Regions from separate parts of the Homo sapiens genome. Here regions 2 and 3 are each linked to region 1. Evidence: fine-mapped expression QTL. A gene starts in region 1. Each other region holds a variant in brackets. All regions are shown on one strand. Distances are between the middles of the regions. Region 1 holds the start of SLC38A4 (solute carrier family 38 member 4). Region 2 overlaps SLC38A4 (solute carrier family 38 member 4). Region 3 holds the start of LOC124902924 (a long non-coding RNA gene).

Region 1 (8,191 bases):
CTTTCTCCCATTCCGCAGGTTGCCTTTTCATTCTATTGATTATTTCCTTCGCTGTGCAGAAGCCTTTTAGTTTGATGTAGTACTGCGTGTCTATTTTTGCTTTTTTGCCTGTGCTTTTGGTGTCATATCCAATAAATCACTGCTAAGACCAATGTTAAAAAGTTTTTCCCTATGTTTTATCCTAGGAGTTTTACAGTTTCAAGTCTTACATTCAAGTTTTTAATCCATTTTTAGTTTTTTGTTGTTTATGATGTAAGATAAAGGTCCAATTTCATTCTTTTGCATGTGGATATACAGTTTTCCCAACACCATTTGTTGAAGAGGCTATGTTTTCCCTATTGTGTGTTCTTGGGACCCTTGTTGAAGATCAGTTGGCCATATATGTGTGGGCTTACTTCTGGGCTCTCTATGCCATTCTATTGATCTATCACTCTCTTTATGCCAATACCATACAGCTTTTGTTGTCTTGTTTGTTTTTTGGTACCATATTTTTTCAGTTACTATAGCTTTGTAATATATTTTGAAATCAGGAAGTATGATGGCTCCAGCTTTGTTCTTTAATAAAATCACTTTGGCTATTTTGAGTCTTTCATGGTTCCATATAAATTTTATGATTATTTTTCCTATTTCTGTAAAAAATGCCATTGGGATTTTGATGAGGACAGCATCGAATTTGTAGCTCACTGTGGATAGTATGGGCATTTTAACGATGTTAAGTCTTCCATTCCATTAACCCAAGATGTGTTCCCATTTATTTTCTGCTTTAATTTCTTTCATTTACCTTTTATAGTTTTCAGTACATAGGACTTTTACCTCTTTAATTACGTTCATTCCTTAGGAATGTTACTATAAACGTGATTGTTTTGTTAATTTCCTGACAGAATAGTTCATTGTCAACATATAGAAATCTAACTGATTTTGTATGTTGATTTTGTATCCTGCAACTTTACTGAATTTGCTTACTAGATTCAAGAGTTTATTGTGGGGTCTTTAGGATTCTTCTACATGTAAGATCATGAAATGTATGCATATGAAATGTGCATGTATGCACCACACCCCTTAATTCGCTTTTTTGACATCTTTGGGAGGGTGTTATTTTGACACACACGTACACATAGGGTTCCAATCACTTAACAAAGGGTAATTATTTAAGATACAGTCACAGGAATAGAATAAAGCTAGAATCTCTTACCAAAAATAAAATCTGTGCCAAACATACATATTTTTATGAGACCTAAGATGGGAAGACTCCTTCTATTTGTTTCTGTCTCAGTGGGTGGGTAACTGGAGATTCTGTCTTCCTAGTTGATAGGCATAAAGGGACCCTACCCCTTCTTATGACAGCAATTAGGGTTGAGAGACAACTTACTCAAAGACCAAAGCTAATAAGGTCCTGGCATGATAGCTGAGCCAAAACTCACAACCCACTGTCTAACTTCTGAGCCCAGCTCCTAAGACAGTCCATCACCACTGGGCACCTACTTTATGTTGAACATGATTCAAAAGATAGGATCCCTGTCTCCAAGACACGTGGAAATGAACTGGAGAGCTGAGGCAAATAGAGTAGGTTTTGTATAGGAAGAATGGTGTGACTTCAGAGACAGAAGAGTGGATTCCAGGCAGGGGACATGGGATCAGAAGTTTGACCTTGGAAACAACAAACAAGAGTCTACTTCAGCTAAAATAGAATGTTTGTATAGAGTTTGGCTGAGGTTGATCTTGACTACCAGATTAAGAAGTTTAAACTTTAAGGAATTTTGGTATAAAGAATAATGGAAAGCATTATATTTGGTTTAATTCTTCAATGTGGGTACCATGATAATATTATGAAATAGTTTTAAAGTAATTATGCAACATACACAGTTTAACATATAGTTTAAAAGTAATTATACAATGCACATAAGGCATTTCTATTTTACTTTTCTTTCAAAAACTGCATTACTTCCCTTCAAAGAAAAAGCTTTAAAAAATCAGAAAACAACCCTCCCATCACCCTGTAAAAAACAATGCCTGCAATGTTGAGCATCATAGTCAATATATTTACATTTCTTATCACACCTTCCTAATGACTGTCATCATTAGTCAAATAAGTAAACAGTATAAGAGCGGTATGCAAAATTCAGTGGGTCTTTTGTTTGGTCTCGTGACTTACAGAGAAGTGTTCATTCCCTCAAGTTTATAGGATTAAATTATCTGCCCTGCCCACACACACAGGAGATATGACCCAGAAGAACAGCCTGCAAAGCAATGTGAGATATCTAATGTTTACTTAAAATAAAATACATTATAAAGACAGCACAAATGATTCTATTCCATTTCAAAAGACTCAGAAAAGCAGATCTACCTATAAAAAGAGTTATAAATTATTTTAGCTGTGATGTTTCTTCATGTTGAGACTTTGGAACCACCATTGCCAGCTACACTCCATCCTTTCCCAAGATTTAGGACAAGGAATATTTTTCTGGTAACAGAAATCATTAAAACAGAGACTCAGGGCAATGCATTCAGTTAAACTCAAGTCTAGTCAGGGCTCCAGACTGACTGTTTCGTTCTGTGAATTGACAATATGTCTCTGAAATTCCAGAATGTGAAATTCCGAAACCTCAACGGGATATTTACAAATGCTTTCAGATAGTAGTGGATATTTTGTTCTCTTCTCTCTTTGGAGGTGGGAGGAATTCTTCAATGGGTACGGGCTGAAGGGAGGGATTTAGCCTAAGCCTTCCAGGTACTATTCAGAAGTGATGCATTTCCCTTGGCTAGTTACAGCCTCCAGTTTCAAGGTTTCTCATGCTTGTGAGCATGCAGATAAAGAATAACATTTCATTTTAAAACCTGATTTGAAGGGACCTCTGGGAGACCTCCTCCCAGCAGCAGATGAGGTGGAGGTGAAAGTAGTGTAACACTGACAGTCTCTGAACCTGAACATCTGCCCTTGATAGTTGCCCTTGGGCTAAAGATGCTGTTTTGGGCTCTGGGTGACCCCTGTCAAACCCAATAGCTACTCACTGTCATTTCCAGCCATGCCACTGTCCCTCAGTTGGCAGTATGTGTCTGAGCATAGATAGGCAGGGAACTTCCGATTGCAGAGGCATTGTTTTGATTCATTTCAAGAACTCTGAAATGTCTTAACTAAGGTAAAGTAACAGATTACTGTACCAATGTAAAAATTTTAAAAGGTACTAGATTTTATACCTTATTGTCTAAGTACATACTTTTTTTCTGTCCTGTTCCTTTTCTCCTTTCCAATCCTCCAGTGTTTTAAATGAAGATGGAGTGTATACATCCTTTTGCCCTAACACAAACAAATGTCATTTTGAAAATAAAAATATTCACATTTCGTCCTCACACTTTTCACCTCTTCAAGTGCCCTCAAGTACCTCCTTAATCCCACTGAAGTTCCAAGTTTCACTGATTTAAAAAGCAAAGGAAAATGTGCAGCACTAGATAGAGTCAAACAACTGGAATGCTACTTAGCATGAAAAACGACCAAACTATCCATCTACTCAATAACTTGCATGGATCTCAAGAGCATCAAGTTGAGTGTAAAAAGAAAAAAACTCAGTCTCAAAAAGATCACATGCAGTATGATTCCATTTATATAATAGTTTCAGAACGATGAAAATATAGAGATGGAAAACAAGTGGTTGCCGGGGTAGCGAGGAGCAGGTGGAGATAATGATAAAGAGGTGGAACAAGGGAGATCTTATGCAAGATACAGGTGGAAGTTCTGCATCTTGACAGGCCTATAGTGGGTCAGATTGCACAAATCTACACATGTGGCAAAATGGCATAGAAACTATACACACATTATTCCAATGTCAGCTTCCTGGGTTTAATATTATACTAAAGTGTGTCAGATGTAACCACTGGAGGAAACCAGGTGAAAGGTTTAGGTGGCCTCTCTGTGCAACTGGATGCAAATATATAATTACTTTAATATACAAAGTTTAAATGTCAGCTTCCTGGGTTTAATATTGTACTAAAGTGTGTCAGGTGTAACCACTGGAGGAAACCAGGTGAAAGGTTTAGGTGGCCTCTCTGTGCAACTGGATGCGAACCTATAATTACTTTAATATACGAAGTTTAAATGTCAGCTTCCTGGGTTTAATATTGTACTAAAGTGTGTCAGATGTAACCCCTGGAGGAAACCAGGTGAAAGGTTTAGGTGGCCTCTCTGTGCAACTGGATGCAAATTTATAATTACTTTAATATACAAAGTTTATATATATATATATATTCCTTACAGATGCCTCTGTACAGAAAGAATAATGAAATATAGCATAGTGGCACATGCCAAAAATGTGTCAGATACCTTCTTTAAAGCATACTGTTACTAAAGAATTACTAAAGTATTGCTTCAAAAGATAAGAAGGAATAAAACAGTAATGACTGCATTCTCAGGACTGCAATAAAATAGCTCTGTTTTCCAGTGTTCTCAACCTTTGGATTGCTTTTCAGGCATTCACAAAGCAAAGTGGGAAACACGAACCCTTTTAGTTAGATCCCTTTAACAATAGAGGTCAGTTTGGTCATACGGTTTTAAAGAATACTCTGCATCCTTGAAACACATTCCTCCCATTTGGAAAAATTCCAGAAACAAGACTATAGCCTGAATAGCACTATCTAGCATGCACGAAACGCTTCTTAAAAGCAAGGACTGCCACAGCCTCTCTTCTTAATGAATCCCTCCCACCCACCTCGTTTTTCAGTGCTTTGCAGTATGTCTTTTTCTCTTTCCCCTTCCACGTTCGTCTCACCCACTCTCCTGGACCCTCTAACCAAGTTGCCACGCAAAAGCAGCAAGCAAACCTGTGTGAGTGGGGTGTCCCGAGGCGGCAGCCTCCCGCGATCCTCCGTGCACGCCACCACCCGGCTCATGCTCCAGGCGCTGCGCACACCCCAGTGGCCGCCCAGGACGTGCGGTCACTGGAGAGCCCCCAGCCACGCCCCTAGATGCTGCTGGGCGGCCTGCAGGAGTACCAACATTGCAGACAGAACAGCGACCTATCCCGCCGTAAGCCAAAGTTGCCTGTTGGTAAATTGCGTCTTTTTTCTTTTTCTTCAACATCTTTATAGTACCGCGAGTGTACCCAGTGTTATTAAATTATGCCAAAACAAAGAGCAAAGTCCCTGCCCTTAGGAGTATGCAGTGTAAAATGAATAAATGACGCAAGGCAAAATGACAGGACAAACACAGGGTGGGTAGAAAGAGTTACGAGTGAAAGGGAAGGTAGAAACAATAAGACTTTCACTGGACCAAAACATGGAAAGGCTGTTAGGGCCCCAAATCTTCATAGCAGATTATAGAAATGAAGAATTGCGATAATATCTATAGTAGCAATCCTATTTTATTGAGTGTTTACGTGCCATGCAGTATCATCATCACAATAATTCTATACCATAGCTGTTGTTTTAAAAAGTGCCAGATATGATTCTAAATGTTTTACAAATATTCACTAATTTGATCCTCCTAAAATCCCTGTGAGGTTGGAACTATTATTTTCCCCATTTCAGAGATGAGTGAAGCAATAAAGTGGACTGACTTGCTCAAGGTAACTCAGGCAAAAAGTGGGAGAGCCAAAATTGGAACCCAGGAAGTTGGATGGTAGAGTCAAGATCTGAGCCCAGGAAGCCCAACTTTATGATGGCATTAGGATTCATATCCACATTACCTTGCCTACCAAGCTTATACTCTTAATCATGTGCAATCATGCAAATTAAGTAAACAATTTAAAAGTATTTGTATTGACTATAAACAATGCACAAAATCATTTTGCAAAGGCCTTTAGTAGGTCCATGAAAAAAATGTTTATTTGAAGAATATTTTCTGTCAAAAAACAGAAAGAAACATGTTTTCTTTCTTCCTTCATTCATTCAACAAACATGTACCAGTGTCTGTTTATACCAGGCACTGTGTTAGGCATCAGGGTGACAGTAGTGAACAAAAGAGACAAAATTGAGGGGAAACAAGGGAACTGAGATAATAGTCATTTTAATCATGAATACACATTAGATTTATTGGGAACAATAGGCAGAAATAGCCAACAAGAAATAATCATATACAGGGAATGACATTCTCTGGGCTGGACTGTCTGGCATGAGTATTATTTAGTTCTTTTTTCCATCTCCTCTCCTTTTTCCTTTGTTTTAGTTATGATAGAGGAAATCACGCTATCGAAAAACATTTCGTATGGACATTTGCTAACATTTCAAATAATGCTTTGGGTGGTAGAAGTAATTGAATTCCCTTCCTAATAACATTATGACCAAGAGTATTTTACAAGCATGGATATGGTAAAGAGGTATGCAGACCTCTGAGCTTGGAATAAAAACCTGGAATAATAGATCCTTACAAAACAAAAGTTGTCAAAGTCTGTTATGAAAACCCAGGATCTTGACTGGCATAAACATCTACTAAAAAGATAAAAGGATAGCATTTGTTACTGTCATTCAATTCCCTACATCACCTTTTAAAAATACATTTGTACTTCCTGACTCTGCTATAATATACTAAAATGAAAAATATAGCCATTAAAAACTAAAATCAGAAGAGAAATCCCCTCCACCTCTCCCCTCATAAAAGCATAGAAGAACATTTGTTTGGATTTTGTTGTATGTTTGTGTAAATTTTATCTATGCTAAAATAGAATATGCCCTTGAGAACCAGAAAAATAATTTGGTTTTCCCTCAAATGGAAAGATAAGACTTTGTTGTCTTATCTTTCCATTTGAGCACTGGTTTTAAATCCTAACATTAAAAGCAATCAAAAAAGCTGTATGCTTTCTATTATGGGGCCATAATAAAATAATAAAATGTATTGCTAATTCCTATGTTCAGTTACTTTGTTCTGTTAGCACAGGTAACTTTCAAAATTCAGGGGAGGGGCAGAGCTAAGGGACACTTGCAGAGAGAATGTGCAAGGATCTCCCTGACCACACCTCCCTCCCCAGCCTCCTCCCAAGCATTCTCTACTGACTAAGAGTACTGAACTCTTAAATTCCTGAACTGACTCCCTCCTTATCCTTTCTCAGTCTGGTCTCTCCACTGAGAGTCCTTTCCTCACATCCTCCAATTCTTTGCCTGGCTAACTTTTATTTCTACTTCAAAACCTTGCTCAGGTACCACCTGGTCTTGAAATGTTCTCTGACCCCTTTCCTAAGCCAGGTTCTCTGGTAGAGTATTCAAATCTGATTTTTCCTTTTTTTTATTTTTATTTTTGTTTGTTTTGTTGGTTGGTTGTTTGTTTGAGATGGAGTCTCGCTCCGTCGCCCAGGCTGGAGTGCAGTGGCATGATCTTGGCTCACTGCAACCTCTGCCTCCTGGGTTCAAGCAATTCTCCTGCCTTAGCCTCTCGAGTATCTGGGACTACAGGCGCACGTCACCACATCCAGCTAATTTTTGTAATTTTTAGTAGAGATGGTGTTTCACCATATTGGTCAGGCTGGTCTGGAACTCCTGACCTCAGGTGATCCACTCTCCTCAGCCTCCCAAAGAGCTGGGATTACAGGCATGAGCCACGGTGCCCAGCCTTTTCCCTGGTTTTTAATCATGCTGTATTGCAAATGTTTCCTTATCTATTCTTTCCTCCAGTAGACTCATTCATTGTTCCACAAATATTTCTTGAGCACCTGGTATTTGCCCAGCACTGTGCTAGGTGCTAGGAAGATAGGAATAAAAGAAACTCCCTAATATAGTTCTTTGAAGATAGTAACACTTGATAATTATTTATGGAATGAATGAGTGAAATTAGGTCATTATATACACAGTGGAAGAAAGAACTAAGAGACATGAAAGTGATTCTGTTTTTCCATTTCTCCTATCTCTCACACCATACTGTGTTATGTAACACATTTCTAACACCCTTGTTTCCTTAAGTTTTTGTTCTCCTCCCTCTGGTTGTCTTTATTTTACTGCTGTCTTTATTGCAACAAGCAGGAGCTTTTGCATAGGATGAATTTTATTCTAATATCAGCATTGTTACTTACTAGCTTTGTGACTCTTGGCTCTTTCCTTAACCTCTTCAATTTCCTGTCTGTAAAACAGAGATAACAAATACCTATAGAATAGAGTATCATGTGAAGATTAAATGAGATTCACATTAAAGGGCTTAGTATAAAGACTGGCTCTTAAAGCACCTTTCCTTTCACTTGTCCCTCCCCTACTTCTACCTCTTATCCTTCCTGCAGAA
Region 2 (8,191 bases), 31 kb before region 1:
AGAATAGAAAACAGTATGAGATGTAGATAGAAACAGCACACGAAACCACAAAGTTGTATGTGCTTTTCTAGAACTCAAGGCATAAATAGCTCTGAGTACACAAGTTAAGAACATTTCCTAGCCTTCTCCCCATATTTCTCACAGAAAGCACAATGCCCTCAGTTGTTGCCTCTTTCCATTTCCATTCACCCCCCACCCACTGCCCACCACTCTTTTGTGGTTTACATTAATGGTCTGTAATTAATGTACCTGCTATGTGAAGACTGGTACATAATGTTCACAGTTGGAGACTGAGATGACAGGATAAAATGAAGCCTAAAATGGGCCTGAGGACTATAAAAACAAAAGTGCCACCTAGAATTTAAACTCTGGAATCTTTATTTTAATCAATAAACTAAAATCTGTATTCCATAGTAGTTTTTAAAATTGAGAATTTGAAAGTAAACAGATTTTCTTTCTTTGAGGCATTTGCATGTTCTTATTTTGGCATGAGATGAGTTGTAGTCATTTAACATGCCAAGATTGTATAAAATAGATGAGAAATGTCCCCAGTATGTTAAATGTTTTGATACCAAACCCAGCATGTATTGAAAACACAAGTATAATGATCACAAATAAATACATTATGTTGAATTTCTCAAAAATTTACATTTAAGGGTTCAATCCAAACCACACATAGATAAAACCCATCTCTTTAAACTGATTTTAAAAACTGCAAAATGATGTCCTATGTTTAAGCCAGGAGATAAAAGGTAAGTCACTGTGAGTGGTTCGGAACACATTGCATGAAGCTTAAGAAAAGCATTCATGCTCTTTCTACTCTGGCTTTTGAGGATCAAGTGGAATGACACTATGACAGTTCTTAGGAGGGTGTCCCCTTTAACTCTGTCAACCTCGGCAGAGCTCATATTTGTGTGCATGCCTTTCAGAAACATCCTCAGGTTTGAATCAATTTACTGAGGGTAATGCAGTGAAGGAGAAGTAATAAAAAAGTATTGAATGTCATCTATATTCTGGTCACCCATCTCATCCTTGAAAAGCAGCTGTTGGTTTGCCATTTTACATTTTCCATTGAAGCTCAAAGAGGACAAACAGCTTCTCTAAAGTCAGGCAACTACTCTGCAGACTCCAAAGCCCTGTCTTCTAGCACCCTAGTGTTTCTTCAAGGGTCACCTAATTTAGAAAATGCTATAATTTACATCTCAGTGGCCTCTCTAGTCCGACATCCCTAAAGTTCATTGCACTGAGCTACTTGAAGGAAGAACGGTAGTTTCTCCTGATGGATTTTCCTGGGTGTTGTAAATAAAATGAGAAGTCTTTGTTTGAGCACAATATTCTCTATTTCACGCCTAGATTTGGTCAAAAATTCCCTTCTGAGCATCTTAAATCATGTACAATTTGATATAACATTTTGTGGGAAATCAATTGACTTATCAAATAACTATTGTGCACTCACTATGCACCAGACAATGTGGCAGGTGGTGGGACCACAGAGGCCATTAACCTGTAGTAGTGGCGTAATTAACATCTGCACAGGGAGAGGGTACATGAAGGAGGGGCAGTCACTTCTACATGGGGGAGTAGAGTAATTTGGAAAAGGCTGCATAGGAGACCTGATGTTGAGCTGATTCTTGAAGGATGAGAGGTGTCAACACGGAGAAAGGGGGAGCAGGTGACTGATTCCAGGCAGTTGGAGCAGAATGAGTGAAGGCAACAAGTAACAAATAGGGAGAGGGCAAAAAACAGGACAGGAGGGGCAGGTCAAGAACAGATCACAAAGGACCTTACGTGCCCAGCAGTGTGTGTAATCTACTTTCTCTTATGGCTATTGGAGAGGTGCAGAAGGGCTTTATCTAAGGATGGAAATTGATTCAATTTGCAATTGTAAGAGATTGCTCTTGCAGGAGTGTAGAGGGCTAGACAGAGGAGAGCAAAATGTAAGACAGGGAGAGAAATCAGGGCTCTCTCCCTGTCTCACATTTAATGTAGGCCTAACGTAAGACCACAGTAGAATGGGTACAGAAAAGTAGGTGTATTTGAAGCATTAATAAGGTCAAACCAACTGGATATGACTGACCGTTGGCTATGTGGGTCAAAGTTTACACCTAGGGGCTTTTGAGTGAGTTGCTACATGATAGCAGTGATTTTCACTAGGATGGGGATTACTAGAGGAGGAGCAGGTTTTGGAGGGAAAGATAGGAGTTCAGTATTAGACATTACAGGTTTAACTTTATAAATGAGGCAATTTAGACACAGTAATGGTCCAGTAGAGACGTGCAGTAGACATTCAGATATAATTATCTGAAATTCAGTAGAGAAACTTAACAGGCTGGGTATATGGCATATATTTGGAGGGTGAGGCCATAGTAGTTGTGAGTGAGCTTGCCCAGAGGATACTTTTAGAGAGAAAAGAATCCCTACAGAAACCAGGAGGTGTAGCAACATTCAAAGAGGAATCTGAGAAAGATAAGAGGAGCAATAGGCTAAAATAATTAAAATTATTACACATTATTAATGGAGACAAAGACATTGTAACCTCAATTCTAAATCAGTCACAAAAGAGATTGACATTATCACTGTATTTCAGGACCAGGGAATTGATGTGCTAGCATCAATATCATTGTTATCACAAATTTACCTGTAATAAATCCAGTTCTTCCCATCAAGACCCTGTTTTCCATGTCCACATCCTGTCTTATTTTTCCATGGAACATAGTAATTTTTAACCCCATACCTGCTCATTGCTGCCTTTTCTGAATTTCCTATCCCGATGTAGCTATCTGGAGCACTTTCTCCACTGCTGCTCTCATCATCTGGTTCGATGTTGACATTTCTCAGTTCCATGGGATCCATTTGAGCTGTCAGCGCTTTCTTGTCCACACACAAGCCCCTTCAGTGTAAATAATATACTGTACCTTCAGCTTAAGGTTCTTCCACTTTGTGTTGATGTTCAGAACACTCTGTTCTGCAAACAGAACACAACATACATCATTATAATTTTATTTAAATGAAATAAGTGAATATGAATCATCTACATTTTGTATGCTCTCTGTAAAAGGGAGGAAGGAAAGAAACTCCTGAAAACTTTACATAAGAAAATCCTGAAATGTTCCTTTACCCAATACAAGAAAGGAAGAAATGGAAGAGAAGAAAGGAAATTACTAATAATTGCTAAATTAGCAGATATTTATAGAGTGCCTATGTATAATGAAAATGGCAGGTTTTACTAGTCACTATGGAAAAAAAAAGAAATCTTAAGACATGGCAGCAGTCTTCAAGGAAATTTAGGTATTTGTGAGTGGGATACATGTTTTAAAAGAAAGGAAGACAAAAGTAAATTGTTGACAGAGGAAGGTCTACCAAGGCAGAATCTACCAGTGTCTCTACTAGCAATAACTAGAAAGAAAATTACTGCTTTAATTTAATTGGACATGAAAGAATTAACACCACCAAATGCTTGATAATATGCAACATAGGTGAGGATCAAGTTTAGGAAGTAACTTTCTAGGCACTTGGATCCTGAAGCCAAAGTTAAGAATAGTAACAAAAGAAAGTTCAGATTTACCTCTGGGTCAGCATTACTCATCATCTGTGTCAAATTAAAATGTATTTTAACAACAAAGAGATCTAGATTTTAGCCTCTGCTCTGCCTTTAATTCATTGGATCTCAGCAGAAGTCATTTAACATTTGGGGACCTCATTTTCCTCAATTGTATAGTGAAAAGGGGTGGACTGGCATTGTGTTTTTGAAAAATGCCTTGAATCTACTATATGTAGTTGATATAATTTCTTCTGAAATTCTTACCATTAGATTCATTCAATTATTGTTGAACCATCGTATTAGGAGAAACACTATCATTCTTGAAAAGTGTGGTCATGACATGTGCAATACCCATTTGATAAGGAAATCTTGAGCAGAGAAACTAACATAAAAATTGCTCCAGAAGTCACAAAATGTGCTATTCCTCTGACAAACAGAAACTACCACATGGGAATACCTCCACAACCCAGTGCCATGGCAGTACTTTTTTGAAAGGCAACTCACACTTGAGAAAAGTTCACATCCTCAAATTACAAAAC[A/G]TATAGAACACACATGGAAACTCACTAGCAAGAGTGCCAGTAGGCACAAGAAATGATAAAATTCACATCTAAGGAACTACAAATAACAAAGCAATTTAAAAGGGACTTTTACATTAAATTAATAAAAAGAAAGACATTTTGAAAGAAAACATTCAAAATAAGAGAATAACTTTCACAGAATAAAAACATTATAAAGGAATATAAAAGGAGAACAGGCTGTTGCAAAAAGAGTCAAAAAAAGGAATTCTTAAAAAAAAGAAAAAAATAGAATCATTGAAATTTAAAAAAACTCAGCTGAAGGAAGACTTATAAAATTGAAAGACAGATCTGTGGAAATCACTCAAATTATAGCATGAAGAGATTAAAAAAAGAAAAATACAAATAAGAAGTTAAGAGGAATGGGGAAAAAATAAGAATTACAAGTTCAAATATACACTGATAGTCATTCCAATATAGAGAATTGTGAGACTAGGGTGAGACAAAACAGAAAGAGATAATGGCAGAGAATTGTCTAGAAATAAAGAAAGCAGTTCTCAGAATTTAAAAAAATAGCACACAGTGTTTTAAGCAGGAGGAACAAAAATGAAACTATTATTAATATAAGGCAGCCTAAATGTATATACATAAAAGATGAAAAGAAGCAGGTTAAAAGCTAAGAGAGAATAGAAGTAAGACATGCATATGGGTAAAAGAAAAAAAAAAGAAACTCACTAAATGAGTACAAAGGTTTTCCTCATTCTTCACACAGTACCAGTCTCACTTCCCAGCAGCAACCACTATTGACGGTTTCTGTTTTTAGCTTGTTACTTAAAGTTAGCCATTCTAGATCTGAATAATTCACTAAAGCTTTTTTGACTTGGTTTACTGATTTTAGACTGGTTACCCATAAAAAATAAGGACATTAGCATACTTTTTCTTTCTTTCCTTCCTTCTCCTACACTCCTAATTATTTTAGTTAATAAAATACTTTTACAATTTGAGAATCATAATATTTTCATCTTGTTCTGTGAAACAAGTGTCATAACTTGCCTGTAGGTTGTTTCTAAACATGGAAAACCAATAAGCAGCAATTACAGTATTATCACTGTATAAATAGTATGCCCTAAAGACAAAGTGGTGTATTTGACTACATAATAAGTGAAATATAATTCTATATTACCAAAACTTTGAAAGCAAATTTTCTATGCTCTTTCTCATTCTGAATGGCTTCCTCCTCCAACCTCTGAGTCTTGCTCAGCTGCTAGTTTCTTGAACGGCATTCTATCTTCTTTCTTCAGTTTATTTTGCATTATGCTAAAATAATGCCTTGAATAACTTTTTTCACACAATGAGCCTATGTCTGTAAATAGAATTTCTGAGTTGCTTCATGTTGGAAAATTCTTTATTTTGCCTTCAAACTTTGTTAATTGTTTGAATTCTAGATTCAGAAGCATTTTCCTTCAGAATATTGAAGAAACTTCTCTCTTCTAGCTTCTATTGATGAGTCTGGCTCTTATTTCTTTATAGATAATTTATCGATGGTTTTCTGAGGATTTCAGAATTTTTATCCTTATCCTTTCATCACGACGTGACTAGATGTGAGTCGCTTTTAAAATTCATCATACTCAGCATGCAGACGGCCCAATCAAAAGGCTTGTCTTTCTTCTATAGAAGACACATTTTCTAAAAATAAAAAAAGTTCTACTATTTAAAAAAACTATTTCTTCCCCTTTGTTTACTCCTGAAACTTTTATTAATCAGGTATTGGACCTCTTGATCCATATTGCTAAGCTTTTCTGTTTATGTTCGATCTGTTCATCTTACTGCTCGATGTTCAGGAATATTTCCTCAATGTCACATCCAAAATAACAAATTTCACCTTCAGCTATATCCGTTTCATTTTTCAACTTGTCAGCTATTTTTCTCAATCATGCTCTTAATTTCTAATAATTTGCTCTTATCCTCTTTCTCTTTTTTCATATCACTTTTTTTGTTTTATGGATACTATATTTTCTCAGATTTTTCTAAGGATATTGATGTGAGGTTTTCAGAAGTTCCTTTTGTTCCCTAAATTATACGTTTCTTCTGAAGTTAGTTATTCTGTTTGTTCCCTTTGGTCCTTCTCTTCCATGCTGCTCATTTTCCTTAGTTTCAAGTGTTCCTAGGTTATCTGTTCATATTTGTGAATGACAGAGCGCATCGATTAGCTTGGACAGCTGGTACTCAGAGCTTCTCTGAAATTGTGTGGGCCCATTTCACTGATGGGCTGCTCCCTTGTAGGTTCTGTGTAAGTGGCTCTTCTGCTGCTTGTCTGTGGGAGGAGCATCCCACTCCCAGACACAGCTGCCACTCTAGGAGCAGTTACTCCGGGGGTGAAGCATTTTAATGTATCTTCTTTTTGGTAGAGCTTCCATTCCTGTTTGTTATACCTCTTTGTCTGCAGTAGAGGCCCTAATGCTTATCCTAGCATCCTCCCTTGAGGTTTCTTTACAGATTGGATCACAGCTTTATCTTATAGTCAAAAATGGTATCCCAAACAGACCATGATGTCTAAACTGAGGTTCCTTGGTGGATACCTGATCACTGGTTGCCCATGATCTATGCCTCCTCTTTGTCTTTATCGACTTAACTTGAAGCTACTGCAGGGCTCCCTATGGGAAAAGCACACTTATCTTGGTTCCTTTTCTCTTAGATTTTCCAACCCTATCTTCTTTCTGCCTTCTAGGAATTCTCAAAAATTTCTATTTGCTGATGACACCACTATTGCTTTTCACAGTTTTTGTGGTTTGTCCTTTTAAAAATATGTGACATTTCATTGCTTGACTTCCTTAAAGCTAGATCCTAAGCCCCATTCTTCCAGTCCACTCCCAAGACTTCATATAACGTGATGGTTAATTTTATATGTCATTGTGGCTGCATTAAAGGATGGGAAGATAGCAAGTAAAACTTTATTTTGGGGTGTGTCTGTGAGGGTGTTTCTGGAAAAGATTACCATTTGAATCAATAGACTGAGTAAAAAAGGTCCACTCTCACCACTGAAGGTGAGCATCCTCCAAACACTCCAGGTTCCACATAGAACAAAAAGGCAGAGGAAGGGCAAATTTACTGTCTCTGCTTGAGCTAGGACATCCATCTTCTGCTGCCTTCTCCTGCCCTTGAACATTGGAGCTCCTGCTTCCCAGACCTCGTAATTCTGATACTTATACCAGCAACATCCTGTTTCTCAGCCTTTGGCCTCAGATTAAATTATACCACCAGCTTTCCTGGTTCTCCAGCTTGCAGATGCTGTACTTTGAGATCTCTTGGCTCCATAATCATGAAAGCCAATTCCCATTATAAATGTCATCTTATATCTATATACATCTATACCTGTCTGTCTATTTATCTCCAGTTGGTTCTGTTTCTCTGGAGAACTCTGATGAATACATATACCAAAGACTCCTCAAGTTACATCAGCCTAGGCTTCTCCTGGGAACTCAAGTTCCATGTGTCCAGGGGCCTAAATGTCATCTATATATCTCAAAGGCAGTTTAAATTCAATGTGTTCAAAGTCTAACTTGTGATAGGCCCTCTTCTTCCAATGTTTCCATTCCAAAGAATGTTGTCACCATTTATCCAATTATTCAAGTCAAAAGCATAAGAGCCTTCTATTATAAATTTTTCTTTCTTACCCTCCACATCCAGTTCTTTACAAAGTCTGGTTGACTTTTACAATAAACTGAAGTATTTCTCAAGTTAGTCTTTTTCTCTTCATTTCTTTCACCTTCACTCTTGTCCAAGCTACCATCATGTCTACTGTAAAAATCTCCTAATTGATCTTCAATTCTCTTTTGCCTCCCCTAACCACCCCCACCATTCATTCTTTACCCAATACCCAGAGTGATCTTTGAAACATAACAGCAACAACACAGATCATATCATTTATTTGCTTAAAACCCTTTAATGTCTTCCCTTTACTCTGAGGATAAAGTCCAAAATTCTCAACATGCCTGGTAAGATTCTGCCTGGTCCACCCACCTCTCTGGTCTCATCTCCGTCCACACTCTCCTCACCTTAGTGTTCTAGCTACACTAGTCTTTCCATTCCAGAAATCCACCGTGTTCTCTACATCTCAGGTCATTTGCACATGTGG
Region 3 (8,191 bases), 120 kb after region 1:
TGGGCAAGGACTTCATGTCCAAAACACCAAAAGCAATGGCAACAAAAGCCAAAATTGACAAATGGGATCTAATTCAACTAAAGAGCTTCTGCACAGCAAAAGAAACTGCCATCAGAGTAAACAGGCAACCTACAACATGGGAGAAAATTTTTGCAACCTACTCATCTGACAAAGGGCTAATATCCAGAATCTACAATGAACTCAAACAAATTTACAAGAAAAAAACAAACAATCCCATCAAAAAGTGGGCGAAGGACATGAACAGACACTTCTCAAAAGAAGACATTTATGCAGCCAAAAAACACATGAAAAAATGCTCATCATCACTGGCCATCAGAGAAATGCAAATCAAAACCACTATGAGATATCATCTCACACCAGTTAGAATGGCAATCATTAAAAAGTCAGGAAACAACAGGTGCTGGAGAGGATGTGGAGAAATAGGAACACTTTTACACTGTTGGTGGGACTGTAAACTAGTTCAACCATTGTGGAAGTCAGTGTGGCGATTCCTCAGGGATCTAGAACTAGAAATACCATTTGACCCAGCCATCCCATTACTGAGTATATACCCAAATGACTATAAATCATGCTGCTATAAAGACACATGCATACGTATGTTTATTGTGGCATTATTCACAATAGCAAAGACTTGGAACCAACCCAAATGTCCAACAATGATAGACTGGATTAAGAAAATGTGGCACATATACACCATGGAATACTATGCAGCCATAAAAAATGATGAGTTCATGTCCTTTGTAGGGACATGGATGAAACTGGAAACCATCATTCTCAGTAAACTATCGCAAGAACAAAAAACCAAACACCGCATATTCTCACTCATAGGTGGGAATTGAACAATGAGATCACATGGACACAGGAAGGGGAATATCACACTCTGGGGACTGTGGTGGGGTGGGGGGAGGGGGGAGGGATAGCATTGGGAGATATACCTAATGCTAGATGACGAGTTAGTGGGAGCAGCGCACCAGCATGACACATGTATACATATGTAACTAACCTGCACAATGTGCACATGTACCCTAAAACTTAAAGTATAATAAAAAAAAATTAAAAAAAAAAAAAACCCCAAATCACAAAACAATTTAAAAAAAAAAAAAAAAACACCCGTATGGAGTATGTACAATATGCTCCCGTCTTTGGAAAGTATATACATATATGCCTAGAAAAACATCCAGAAACCTATTAGACAAATGTCAACTGTGGTTAATTATTGGGTGGTGAAATTGAGTTTTAATTTTCTTGTAATTTTTAATTTATGTTTATTTTACAATAAATGAACAGTAATTACAAATCTTTAAAGACTTTTGGAAGACCTTTTGGAAAAAAATTATTGCTGCTCTTGTGAGAACCACTGATAGATATTGTTTCAGTCCTTCTGCTCTGAGAAGTATGCAAGTTATGGTCATAGAAACTCTGTGGGCTACGAAAAAGTGCACATTAAGGTTATTCAAAGGGCTGGAGTTTATAAGGCACCAGCATAACCTTGCCACAAACAGGTTTACGCTTATGAAACAAATCTATCTAGGTGGATTCATCTTTTACTAAATATTTCCCTGTTGACACAGCTTTACTCGCCAATGTTTAATTGCTTTGTATAATTTGTATTAAGCACTATAACATTATGCTACACAGTACTTCAACCCATAACAAGACTTGAACCTGCAATAATGTCATTCCCAAGGAAGATGACCCAGGATTTTTGTATAGGTACCTCCACAGAGCATGGTGGTTAAGGAGGTTCTGTCATAGGCTCTGAGCCTGTGTAGAAATTAGCAGGCAAACCCTAGGTCATGATGGAAGTATGCATCCAGCAGAATGGAGAAGGGTCATTATGGCCTTCAACTGCAGACATTAACAAGTGTGTCCTAACCTGCTTCATTCCTGGCATGTGGGAACAGAACCTTGAAGATCTGGATTCAAGTCAAGCTTCTTGAATGTTAAATATGTAAACATGTAAAAATCTGGAATCCTTTATAGATTATTACATTTTAAAGCTGATCGTTTACATATAGAGCATTAAATTAAATAGGCACATTCTTTATATATAAACAAACAAACTCTCTAGTGATTTATTTTCTCACCATGGAATTTCAATTTCTGATGGATTTTGATGCACATATTGCATCATTTATATAAAAATTTCATTTGAAGGTGCCCATAAAATTTAAGCTGCAGGTGAACTATCAAGAGAATACGTGAAAGTCATTTACAAAATTAGAACGAGCCCAAGACAGGATGGAAAAACCCAAGCTTCTATAGATATTTTCCAGAATTTTTAGGGTTCAGGATGATCATGTTTAATTCCCAAAGCCGCAATTCCTAGCAGCATAGGAGCTCTCAAATATGCAGAAGGAAATGATTCAGAACTGAAAGAGGATAAGTCATCCAATGAATGGTAAGAATTAAGCCTAATGTCAGTAGGTGGCATGCATGCCTTCAATTATTTGACATACAGTTACTGAGCACCTGCTCAGTAAATCATAGGGCCCAAAGATAATTTCCTGGAGGAATGTGTGACTCAAGGCTATTTGGTCTGCCTGTGTCCTTCCTCTGTAGCTCATAAGCACTCTACATGTGCAAAGTCAAGTTTAAATGAAAGTCAAGGGGAACAGTGAGAAAAGAAGCGAGAAAGGTGCAGCATCGTGTGAGAGTGTGTGTGTGTGTGTGTGTGTGTGTGTGTGTGTGTGTGTGTGTTTGTAATGGAGTGAGAGGTGCCAGAAAAATTTAGCTTTCCCTTCTTTCCAGGTCTCTTTGCTTCAGGAGCTGGGGAAGTGTTGCAGTCATCTCCTTTTCCCTTTTTAGCTCTTCTTCAGTCCCCATGCCTTCAAATAACCTCTGGAGCTTGGAATAATTTATCTGATTAACTGTTCTCAGGATAACCGTGTGGGCATAAGAGGAAAGCAGGTTACTGATGCTACTGTGGCCTCCTAGCAACTGACACAATCAATGCTCTTTGGTTTGGGATGTTAGGCTGCAACCGTCCTTAGGGAGCTGTATATTTTCCAT[A/G]TGTGTTGAGAAGTATAGCAAAGTCTAAGAGAATTAAATGAGAGAATTTGGTTACCCTACTTTCTGGCTTGCTAAGGGTTAACTTTCTAAATTCCAAAATCCTTTTTGTGTCTCCTGTCATTAAAATTATAAAATAATTCATTTCATTTTTTGTCTTAGCAAATAGAGCATTTTGACAATAACATAGGATGTTGTGACTGATTAACATGATGCACACTGTAAAGAACTAAAGATATCAAAGGATGTTGACATTAAACGCACCTTATAAGTTGTTATGATTTTTCACTTGTAATTTTTTCCATAACATTAGACTATTGACTATGAAAGACAAAAATCTGATCACTTGAAGATTGTTATTTTTTAGATTATGATTATTCTAGACTTACTGCACTGTTAATGAACCTTTAGTAAATTTGATGCATAAGTGTTTCCTGGAGTACAAAAAATAAATGATTCTTTGATAAAGAAAGACTCAAAATGTTTTTCCTCATTTTTCCAGTCAAATTTTTTTTTTTAGTTCAGATCTTTGAAAAATATCCCACAAGTTATAAAGATTAATAAAACTGGACAAATATAAAAGTCTCATGATTGAAGTGACATTTTCACATAAATTTCATTAAAGGAACCATTAGGCTAAAGTGTTTTTATGTGTATTAAACTGTGCTATGTAAACTACCAGGGACTTTTTTTTTAAGCAGCCTAAATAAAAGAGAAATGGGTCAAGAAGAAGCTAATTAAGTAATTTATTGAAGGCTCAAGTATAAACAAGACAACAATCCAAGATTCTTATTTTGCAGATGGTATTTTTCACTGCTTCCTTCACCTCTTGGATGCTTCATATTTCACATTATTTTAAGAACAATTCACTCCCAGAGGATCATGGATGTACAGTCAGTTTGGTCTTGCTGAGTCAACGTGTGCACGTGTTCTCACAAATCTCCAGGCAACATTCACTGACAAGGCAGGGGGAGCTGTGCTCAGCATTTTCTTCAAATTGCTGTCTGAACAGTGGTGTGAAAATGATGTTCACTGTTGTTTGTTTCACCCATTCTCAGTACTGAGAGTTGTCAAAATTACTATTTCTGAGTACAGCATGTGTTCTAATTAAAGATAAAGTGTCTTTAAGACTCAGGTAGGTGTTTCATTAAATGTGATATATGCAGCAATGTATAAAGTATATCATTTATTCACCTTGAGATGCTATTAGGAATGTGCATTTGTGTGATGTCTAACTGATATCATATGGTGCACTAACACAGGGCTTTTCTATTTAAGAACCATTTCACTATGGGTTTGGGGAAAGTTATATATCTCAGGAAGTATTTAGCTTCCAATAGCTTTTCCTCTCTTTTTTAAGTGCAGTAATATATCTTTAAAACATATATGTATATGTATGCATGTATGTGTGTATATATACAGTAAATATATATACACACTATATGTATACTGAAATGTTATGCAGCACATAACATTTAAATATAGATACACACACACAGAGTAATGTGCTGTATAACATTTCAGTCAACAACAAACCACATGTGTGACATTCGTTCCATTTTAATGGAGCTGAAAAATGCCTGTTGTCTAGTGACATCGTAGCCATCGTAATGTAGCATGATGCATTACTCACTTATTTGTGGTCATGCTGGTGTAAACAAACCTACTGCGCTTCCAGTCGTATAAAAGTATAGCACATACAATTATGTACAGTATATGATACTCAATAATGATGATAAACAACACAACTATACTAGTGGTTTATGTATTTACTATACAGCTCCTCTTCAGTCCCCACCCCTTCAAATAACCTCTGGGGCTTGGAATGATTTATCTGATTAGTTGTTCTCACAATAACCATGTTAAGCTATATGTTGAACTATACTTTTTAACATTATTTTAGAGTTTACTCCCTCTACTCATGAAAAAAAGTTAACTGTAAAACAGCCTCAGGCAGGTCCTTCAGGAGGTGTTCCCGAAGGCATTGTAGAAGATGATAGCTTCATGTGTATTATTGCCCCAAAGACCTTCCAGTGAGGCAAGATGTGGAGGTAGAAGACAATGATATTGATGATCCTGACTTTGTATATGCCTAGACTGATGTGTATGTTTGCATCTTAGTTCTTAGCCAAAAAAAAAAGAAAAAAAAGGTTTAAAAAAATTTTAAGAAGAATAAAAAAAAGACATTTTAAAAATATAAAGCAGCAGCTGGGTGCTGTGGCTCATGCCTGTAATCCCAGCACTTTGGGAGGCCAAAGCAGGTGGACCACTTGAGTCCAAGAGTTTGAGACCAGCACAGGCAATATGGTGAAGGCTTATCTCTACAAAAAATACAAAAATTGGTGCACATCAGTAGCCCAGCTACTAAGGAGGATGAGGCAGGAGGATTGCTGAGCCCTGGTGATCGAGACTGCAGTGAGCTGAGATCACACCACAACATTCCAGCCTGGGCAAGAGAGACAAACTCTGTCTCAAAAATAAATAAATAAATAATACAATATAATAAATAAATACTGGACATGGGAAGGCGAGAGACATCTGGTCGACCTTAGACATGAGAAGGTGAGAGCCAGCTGGTTGACCTTAGACATGGGATTTATATATATATATATATATATATTTTATATATATGTGCATGTACATATGTGTGTATATATATGTACATACACATATATACAAAGAAGCTTATGGAACAAGGCTATAAAGAAAGAAAATATTTTTGTCAGCTCTACAATGTGTTTGTGCTTTAAGCTAAGTGTTATTACAAAAGATTCATAAAGTTAAAAAATGCAAAGGTTTATAAAGTAAAAATGTTACAGTAAGCTAACGTTAATTTATTATTGAAGCAAGAAAAAATTTTTTTATGAATTCAGTGTAGGCTAAGTGTTCAGTCTTTAGAAAGTCTGCAGTAGTGTACAGTAATGTCCTAGGCCTTCCTGTTCACTCACCACTCATTCACAGTGGAGCTTGCAGGACTGGAAGATGCTCTGGGTGAGTCAGTGATTGAGTAGTGAGTGAACATGAAGGCCTAGGGCATTACTGTACTTTAAATATTTATACCGTTTAAATCTTTATACCATTACTTTAAATCTTTTACACCATACTTTTGCTGTACCTTTTCTATGTATGAATATGTTTAGATTCATGAATACCCAGCATTGTGTCATAATTGCCTACAGTATTCAGTACAGTAGCATGCTGTACAGGTTTGTAGCCTAGGAGCAGTAGACTTTACCATATAGTTTAGGTGTATAGTAGGTAGGCTATACCATCTAGGTTTGTGCAAGTATACTCTATGATGTTTGCACAATGACAAAATCACCTAGTGATGCATTCCCCAGAACATATTCTTGCTATTAAGAGATGCATAATATTGTGTGTATATATAAATATATTTGCACACACATATGTATAAGAAGTAAATAGAATAAAACAAGATAGATATTATAAATACTTGGAGGTCATGCCACAGGAAATTTCTTCCAATAAATGAGAAGTGAAATTGCCTCTGGTAGTTAAATTTTAAATCAACACATTACTAAGATAGGCAATCAGTCCCCTTAAAGAAAAAGTATGGCTCCCAGGCTGTGGTGTATGGGTCATGAAAGACAGGATGCATAACTGACCAAGGGCTCTAGCTTCCATGCTCTGAAATCATTCGCCATGTTGTACTGAGGCCAAGCTTCCCATGGGCTGCTCCCAGCCATGATTGAGTGCAACAGAAACACTAAGGCAGATGCATTTCTGCAAGATAGGGCATTTCTACAGCCCACTTTGCCACAAGTGACCCTTCTTGCCCCACATCCTGCCCCCAATACCTTGATGAACCTTCCTCCAACTGTAAATGTCTAAGATGCTTCCTCCTGCCCTTCCCCTTTCTCCTTCCTTCAGGGTCAGGCTTGCATCATAGACCAATGACTATCCCAGCTTTCCTCAGCTCCCTCCTTTAATAAAATCCATGCATGTTTAATCCCATCTTGACATGTACTTCCCGGACTAACACACAGACCAAACTATAATTGTATCATTGATTAATACACTAATGTAGCTTAAAAATAAAACATGTAAAATAAAACAGTAACCTCTCAGAAAGAGATTGGTCGGCTCTGGGAGCTGTGAAAAAAGGTGCCAAGCAAAGCTGAACCTGCTCAGTTCATGCTTCTGTGACAGAGGAGGTGACAGCAATGTACCAGCCCAAACACTATCCTTGTTTTTGCAATGGATATATCTGGTGCCATAAAATATTTAGTTCATCCAGTAACACACCTTGTTCTGAGTTCATGCTTTCCAGATGATGTTGAGTTGACTTTTTGACTTCCTCCTAGGCCTATCTCCAGGGAGCAATGTATTAGTTACATGGATGTAGCCCAGAGGGAATTTTTGGAAATTTGGAGAACTGCATTCTAGAGACTCAAAACTGTGACTGCTGAGTGGACCATCTATGGGCAAGAGCAGAATCACTGAATACTGGAGGAGGGTTGCAAGGTGGCCTGGTTTCTGTGGCAGTGATCTGGTAGGTTCTGCTGAGGAAAACTGGATGGTGTCTGGCATGTCTTCAGTAAGTAATAAATGCTAGCAAGCACTTTTGTTATTGGATTATGGCTGGAATTGTCATCTAAAGGGAGAAACGTTAAGTTTTCTTTAAAATATTATTATGTTAGTTTCCTAAGGCTGCCATACCAACCACTAACTAGATAAGTTAAAGCAAAAGAAATTTATTCTCACTGTTTTGGAGGCTACAAGTCTGAAAGGAAGATGTCAGCAGGGCGGGTGCCTTTCGGGGGCTCTGGGGGAGAATCTGTTTCATGTCTGTGTCCTGGCTTCTGGTGAACATAGGCAATGCTTGGTGTTCCTTGGCTTGTAGATGCATCACTCCAGTCTCTGCCTCCAGCTTCACGTGGCCTTCTGCTTGTGTATCTCTGTGGCTTCACATGGCTGTCTTCTCATAGAAACACCAGTCATATGGAATTAGGGGTCTACCCCACTCCACTATGACCTCATCTTAACTTATTACATCTGCAAGGACCCTATTCCCACATAAGGTCACATTCTGAGGTATTATAGGTTAGGATTTCAACATATTTTTGGGAGGACACACAATTCAACTCATATTGGACTTTATGACTCTATGAAATTACTCAAGAGAATAGCTTCATAATGC

What was found. PIP is the estimated chance that this variant, and not a neighbour inherited with it, causes the effect.
Region 2: its variant is the best candidate, but not a certain one, in a credible set for the expression of SLC38A4 in nasal epithelium (TOPMed, PIP 0.50).
Region 3: its variant is the best candidate, but not a certain one, in a credible set for the expression of SLC38A4 in skeletal muscle (GTEx, PIP 0.50).

Annotation. Positions count from the first base shown.
Region 1 is chr12:46,821,091-46,829,281 of GRCh38, forward strand. SLC38A4 (solute carrier family 38 member 4) reads right to left here and starts at 4,907. Exons shown (of 17, transcript NM_018018.5): 1 at 4,813-4,907. RefSeq lists enhancers at 4,367-4,925, 4,926-5,483.
Region 2 is chr12:46,790,219-46,798,409 of GRCh38, forward strand. It overlaps SLC38A4 (solute carrier family 38 member 4), which reads right to left. Exons shown (of 17, transcript NM_018018.5): 3 at 2,735-2,965. The coding sequence starts at 2,853. Among named protein-coding and RNA genes, the nearest start is that of SLC38A4, 32 kb to the right of the region's middle. The variant A/G (reference allele first, on the strand shown) is at 4,081.
Region 3 is chr12:46,940,323-46,948,513 of GRCh38, forward strand. LOC124902924 (a long non-coding RNA gene) reads left to right here and starts at 1,168. Exons shown (of 2, transcript XR_007063285.1): 1 at 1,168-4,165; 2 at 7,356-8,191. The variant A/G (reference allele first, on the strand shown) is at 3,034.